2 linked regions of the Homo sapiens genome follow. The protein of the gene in region 1 interacts with the protein of each later gene in a pairwise test. Each region holds a gene or a part of one and is shown in the gene's direction. Other genes may lie near its edges.

Region 1 (3,620 bases):
TAATGTGGATCTATTTTTGTCTCAAACAATAAGGAAAATTATTGACATAACTGGAAGTCCAGATGTAGGGCAGGCTTCACAGTTGACTTGGCTGAAGCTCAGTGTCCCCGTGATTCTCTTGGCTCTGCTCTCTTCCATGTGTGGCTTCATCCTCAGGCTGACAATGAGATAGCTGCAGCAATTCCAGCCCCCATATCAATGCACAAAAAATGTGTTGGAAGAAAAAGAGGATTGCTACTCTCAGAAACTCTTCCAGAAAAACAATAACTTTTTGAGACACTCCAACAAAATTTTCTTCAAATCTCATTGGTCCAAAATGAGCCACATGGCCATTCCTGTATCAATCATGAGTAAGAAGAATGGGATAAAATAGATTACATAAGCTCATACCTGCAGTTAGGAATGATGTCAGCTTTCTTTTGGCACATGGGCTGCATAGAAGTGAGGATAACTATCAATAAGAAGTAAGTCCAGCTCTCAGATACAGAAAACCTAAAATAATAGTGGATTCAATAAGTTAGCATTTAGGCCAGGCATAGTGGCTCATGCCTGTAATCCCAATACTTTGGGAGGCCGAGGCAGGTGGATCACTTGAGATCAGGAGTTCAAGACCAGCCTGGCCAACATGGTGAAACCCTGTTTCTACTAAAAATACAAAAATTAGCCAGGTTTGGTAGCTCAAACCTGTAATCCCAGCTACTCGGGAGGTTGAGGCAGAAGAATCACTAGAACTTGGGAGGCAAAAGTTGCAGTGAGCCGAGATCATGCCATTGCACTCCAGCCTGGGCAACAGAGCAAGACTCTGCCTCGGAAAACACACACACACACACACACACACACACACAAGTAAGTTAAAATTTAAATCAGGTCTGAAGGTAGGCAGTATAGGGCCAGTATAGTATGGCAGCTCCATGGTCACCCAGGTTCCTTCCTTCTATCTAAACTATCTAAATGTTTTGCCATCCTCAACACGTGGCTTCTACCTCATGGTCCAAGATAGGTCTGGAGCCATAGCCATTACATCCACCTTCAGACACCAAGAAGGACAAAGGATTGGGAAGGAGAGACTGGCTTCTCCTTTTAAGGATGTGTCCCAACATTGAAACCAAAACTAAAGATACAACAAAAAAGAGAAAACCACAGGCCAATATCCCTGATGAACACAGATGCAAAAATCCTCAACAAAATACTAGCAAACAGAGCTCAACAACATTTTAAAGGATCATTCATTATGATCAAGTAGGATTCATCTTCAAGATGCAAGGATGGTTCAACATAAGCAAATCAATAAATGTGATACATCACATCAACAGAATCAAAGGCAAAAATATATAATCATTTCAGTAGATGATGAAAAAGCATTTGGTAAAATGCAATATCCCTTCATAATAAAAACCCTCAACAAATTGGGTATAGAAGGGATATACCTCAACATCATAAAGGCCATACATGACAAACCTATAGCTAATATCTTACTGAACTGGACAAAATTGAAAGCCTTTCCACCAAGATTTGGACCAAGACAATGATGCCAACTTCCACCACTTTTATTCAACGTAGTACTGGAAGTTCTAGCCAGAGCAATTAGACAAGAGAAAGAAATAAAGGGTATCCCAGTTGAAAAGAAAGAAGTCAAAAACCTCACTGCAACTTAACAAAGAGAGATTCCTTCTTCTCAGGTAATAGTTTAGGGCTGCTTTTGGTGGACTTACATGACGTCTTCAAGAATCCAAGGTCATTCCACATTTCTGTTCCACTATAATTAACATTAGCTTTTCCTAAAGTTCACAAACTGACTGCTACAATTCTAGCCATCATATCTGAGGTTCCTTAGGAGGAAAGGAGAAGGGCAAAATGTAAAAGTTGCATGCCACCTGAATCCATCTAATTTATTGGAAATCAATATCTTTCCTAGAAACCTCATCTGTTAGATTTCTCATTGACCAGAACTATTACGTTGCATGGCCTATTACGGCAAGAAAATCTCAGGGAGATGAGCATTTTAAAATGATTACGTTGCTGTCCTGAACAAAATCAGACTCTATTATTAAAGAAGGAGGAATGGATATTGGGTAGATAACACTATTTACTATCATTTTCCATCTAGAATATTTTTTGCTATATGACATAAAACAAAGAGTTAATTTTTTCCAATAAGTTAACCACCTTTCTCAGCATCTTTATTAAATAACCCATCCTTTCTTCATTGGTTTGACATACAACATATTATATTTGAAACATATAGAAATTCCAATTCCGATAACTGCAAGAGTGGCACCCGAAAGACCATCCTTCCCCAGATTACAACTATAAGCTTTTGACAAAATATCGACGACAACCATTGAAAGCACTGGAGATTAACCAAGAGCAGATAGAAAATGGAGGGTTATTGACACTTGGAAGAAGGAAATGACAGTAGGCGAGTTTCTCAATTGTATAGCTTTAGGCCTAAGGGCAACCCCAATCAGTGCCATATCTGGGATAGAAACCTGCCATCTTGCCAACATGAATAGCTAGAAGGAAGAGGTTGGGGTTACCGTAATAGCTGGAATGCAAAGGGGTTATGCTGGAAAGGAGAGTCACAGTGGAGAAACACTGAATCCTATACATAAGCTCTGTCCAAATCTCTAGTTGTTCTCTGAACAATGCATGGGCAATGCAGAAACCAAGCAGCCAAGTTAAGATTCAAATAATTGAACAGAGATTGCAGCTGATACTTATTACAAGAGACAGAGTTTCACCCAAGTTAACTGGCCACTTAAAAAAAAAAATCAACACTCTTTGGAGGAATGTGACAGAATCCAGGTACCCTGCAATGTATCATTCACGATATCCAGGATACAATACAAAATTAACACCCATACAAGAATAGTAAATATGACCCATACTTAGGAGGAAAGGAAATCAATAAAGATCAATCTTAAAATTACCCAAATTCTGGAATTAGCAGACAATGGATTTTAAAGTAGTTGCTATAACAATGCTCGGTAAAGACTATAGGGTCTCAGGTCACTTCTACTCTCCCCTCCTAAAAAGGGTATTAATAATAGTTTATCCTATTAGGCATATGTCCACATATCCTCCAAACAACTTGAGTGAGAATTAACCAGTCTGGTGAACATTTTTTTTAAAAAGCGGCTTTGGGTAGAAAAGCAAAGACAGGATTCTGTTTTTTGTTTTTTTGAGATGGAGTCTCTCTCTGTCACCCAAGCTGCAGTGCGGTGGCGCGATCTCAGCTCACTGCAACTTCCGCCTCCCAAATTCAAGCGATTCACCTGCCTCAGCCTCCCGAGTAGCTAGGACTACAGGCATGTGCCCAGCTAATGTTTGTATTTTTAGTAGAGATGGGGTTTCATCATGTTAGTCAGGCTGGTCTCGAACTCCTGACTTCAAGTGATCTGCCCACCTCGGCCTCCCAAAGTGCTGAGATTATAGGTGTGAGCCACCACACCTGGCCAGGACAGGCAGTTTTTTAATACCTTTGTAAGGAAAGTAAAACATACCCTTTCCATTGCCAACAGGTCACCAAGTTGGCAGAGATAACTAGTCAAACTCTTGGATCCCCAGCACTTGGTTCAGAGATGCAAGAGTTAGCAGCTGTGGAATTACATGGCTCTTTT
Region 2 (3,828 bases), on another chromosome or scaffold:
GTGTGATAATGTGAATATAGTAAGAAATATATATGTAACCAGTGGGATATTGTGGAAATGACAGCAGTTCATTCAAATATGATCACTGTGAATCAAGGCATAGAATAGAACTATAAAGAAAAGCAAAGGAGTAAGTTATACAAAAATCAGGATACTTGTTATCTCTGGCTGGTGCAGTGGGGGAATGCAATTGGAGAGAAGCATAGGAGTCAGTTAACGTTTTGTTAACCTTTGTGCTGGCTACTTGGAGTGTTCATCTTAATTTTTTCAAATTGAATATTCAGTTTTTACCTGAAACATTTCAAAATACAAATTTCTGAGTTGCCATTCTGTTAAGACAATCTTTGTCTTTTTTAATTAGAAGAGCACTTAGTCTTCTGGTTGTTACAGGGCTTCTTAATTTGGACTTTCAGAATAAGGTTCAACAAATCTAGGTCCAGGTGGAGACTCAGCCGCTAACTTCCAGAAAGAACTAAGGGAAGTCACATAACCAACTTAAACTCCACTTACCTTAGCTGTATAACTAAAGGATTTGGATTAGGAACTACTAGGGGACTTTTAAGATCCCTTCTAAGTCTAAACGGTTGTGGAAAAGCTGACAGCACATGGAATGAAGCTACACTGACCTATGCTTGCATGGAAACTAGTGAACTAAACATAATGTGGAAGGCATTTTGAAAAGTTTCCTTTGGTTGAGAGAATTTAAGCTCTTTATTTTTGCTGTCAGTTCTAAATCACAGTCTCTAGAATCAAACCTATGGTAGTATTTTATATATGATAAGAGTGGTATTCCGTCTTTACTCCTTTTTTTCTTGTATTGGAAGTTGGGAGTTAACATGTAGTTGGACTAAAGGTCTTTTTTTTGTGTATCATGAAAAAATGATATTCTTTTCCACTGTAAACCATATTGATTTAGGATGTTCTCTATAACTATGTATATATTTCAGAATGATTGAGAGAGGAAGACTGTGAATTTTTAAAGTATACATGGAAAAATGAGTACATTATATCTGTGAAATCTCATATTTTTCTATTGTAAAATGTTATATCGTTTACTTAAATATAAAAGTATGTTATTGCTAATAGTGCTGTGGGTATTAATCCAAATTTACTAAATCCAGTGTCAGAAGAAATTTATTTTATCTACATATGGTTGTTTTAGAATCTACAACAGATTTTACTCTGTTTGTTTACCCATCTGCCTACTCTTCTGCCTCCCCACAGAAATTATTCTTGACAGAAGTATTTTAAAAGAAAAATCTTTACGATGGCCTCAGCAGTACTTAGTTCTGTTCCCACCACCGCTTCTCGTTTTGCCCTGTTACAAGTGGATAGTGGCAGTGGCTCTGATTCTGAACCTGGAAAAGGTAAAGGTCGAAATACTGGAAAGTCTCAAACTTTAGGAAGCAAGTCAACTACAAATGAGAAAAAAAGAGAGAAAAGAAGAAAAAAGAAGGAACAGCAACAGAGTGAAGCAAATGAGGTAACACAATTATCTGTGTTGTCTGCTTTCCCAGTAGATGGTAATCATCCTGAGAACAGATACTATCTTGTTCCCCTGTGTATCCATAGTACCTGTTCCACAGGTACTCTGAAAATATTACTTCAATGAATGGATGTGAATTTGTGTATATTTAAAATCAAATGTAATGATCTTTTTTTTTTTTTGAGACAGGGTCTCACTCTGTCACCTAGGCTGGAGTGCAGTGGGATGATCACAGTTCACTGTAGCCTCAACCTCCTAGGCTCAAGGTAGCCTCACACCTTAGCCTCCCAAGTAGCTGGGACCACAGGCACACACTGCCATGCCTGGCTAATTTTTGCGTTTTTTGTAGAGATGGAGTTTTGCCATGTTGCATAGGCTGGTCTTGAACACCTGGGCTCAAGCAATCTGCTTGCCTCAGCCTCCCAAAGGGTTGGGATTACAGGCGTGAGCCACCACACCCTGCCTGAACATTTTTAAAGTACGTTTTTTCTGACTGGAAGTTTGTGTGTTCATTGCATAAAGTTTAAAATAGGAAAGTCTTAAAAGGAAACAGGTCATTTATAGATATAACCAGAGATATAACCAATTAATATTTTGGTATGTGTTTTCTGTACACATATATAAATTTATATGAATATATACATGTATGTATATATCCTTCTAATACTTAAATGAAAATGGGGTTATATAATAGACTGTTTTATAACTGGCTTTTAAAAAAAATTAACCATGAGCAGTTTTCCATATTGGTAAATACAGATCTCTGTTATTTTAAATGAATCCACAGTTTACAATATTTAATTACATGGTTTTTTTTTTATTTTTTATTTTTTTTATTGATCATTCTTGGGTGTTTCTCGCAGAGGGGGATTTGGCAGGGTCATAGGACAATAGTGGAGGGAAGGTCGGCAGATAAACAAGTGAACAAAGGTTTCTGGTTTTCCTAGGCAGAGGACCCTGCGGCCTTCCGCAGTGTTTGTGTCCCTGGGTACTTGAGATTAGGGAGTGGTGATGATTCTTAACGAGCATGCTGCCTTCAAGCATCTGTTTAACAAAGCACATCTTGCACCGCCCTTAATCCATTTAACCCTGAGTGGACACAGCACGTTTCAGAGAGCACAGGGTTGGGGGTAAGGTCACCGATCAACAGGATCCCAAGGCAGAAGAATTTATCTTAGTACAGAACAAAATGAAAAGTCTCCCATGTCTACTTCTTTCTACACAGACACGGCAACCATCCGATTTCTCAATCTTTTCCCCACCTTTCCCCCCCTTCTATTCCACAAAACTGCCATTGTCATCCCGGCCCGTTCTCAATGAGCTGTTGGGTACACCTCCCAGATGGGGTGGTGGCCGGGCAGAGGGGCTCCTCACTTCCCAGTAGGGGCGGCCGGGCAGAGGCGCCCCTCACCTCCCGGACGGGGCGGCTGGCCGGGCGGGGGGCTGACCCCCCACCTCCCTCCCGGACGGGGCGGCTGACCAGGCAGAGGGGCTCCTCACTTCCCAGTAGGGGCGGCCGGGCAGAGGCGCCCCTCACCTCCCGGACGGGGTGGCTGGCCCGGCGGGGGGCTGACCCCACCTCCCTCCCGTACGGGGCGGCTGGCCGGGCGGGGGGCTGGACCCCCCCACCTCCCTCCCGGACGGGGCGGCTGGCCAGGCGGGGGGCTGACCCCCCCCACCTCCCTCCTGGATGGGGCGGCTGGCCGGGCCGGGGGCTGACCCCCCCACCTCCCTCCCGGACGGGGCGTCTGGCTGGGCGGGGGGCTGACCCCCCCACCTCCCTCCCGGACGGGGCGGCTGGCCGAGCAGAGGGGCTCCTCACTTCCCAGTAGGGGTGGCCGGGCAGAGGCGCCCCTCACCTCCCGGACGGGGTGGCTGGCCGGGCGGGGGGCTGACCCCCCCCACCTCCCTCCCGGACGGGGCGGCTGGCCGGGCGGGGGGCTGACCCCCCCACCTCCCTCCCGGATGGGGCGGCTGGCCGGGCGGGGTGCTGACCCCCCCACCTCCCTCCCAGATGGGGCGGCTGGCCGGGCGGGGGGCTGAGCCCCCCACCTCCCTCCCGGACGGGGTGGCTGGCCCGGCAGAGGGGCTCCTCACTTCCCAGTAGGGGCGGCTGGGCAGAGGCGCCCCTCACCTCCCAGACGGGGCGGCTGGCCGTGCGGGGGGCTGACCCCCCTACCTCCCTCCCGGACGGGGCGGCTGCCGGGCGGAGACGCTCCTCACTTCCCAGACGGGGTGGCTGCCGGGCAGAGGGGCTCCTTACTTCTCAGACGGGGCGGATGCTGGGCGGAGGGTCTCCTCACTTCTCAGACGGGGCGGCTGGGCAGAGACGCTCCTCACCT

What was found.
Region 2: the proteins of HSD11B1 (region 1) and GKAP1 interact in a two-hybrid assay, tested with the Homo sapiens proteins (one large-scale study listed by BioGRID and IntAct).

What each region holds. Positions count from the first base shown.
Region 1 is NC_000001.11:209,728,550-209,732,169, forward strand, and holds part of HSD11B1 (11-beta-hydroxysteroid dehydrogenase 1), read left to right. Parts: intron 1-3,620. UniProt on the Homo sapiens protein: Controls the reversible conversion of biologically active glucocorticoids such as cortisone to cortisol, and 11-dehydrocorticosterone to corticosterone in the presence of NADP(H).
Region 2 is NC_000009.12:83,803,957-83,807,784, reverse strand, and holds part of GKAP1 (G kinase-anchoring protein 1), read left to right. Parts: intron 1-1,224; 5' UTR 1,225-1,267; coding exon 1,268-1,483; intron 1,484-3,828. UniProt on the Homo sapiens protein: Regulates insulin-dependent IRS1 tyrosine phosphorylation in adipocytes by modulating the availability of IRS1 to IR tyrosine kinase. Its association with IRS1 is required for insulin-induced translocation of SLC2A4 to the cell membrane.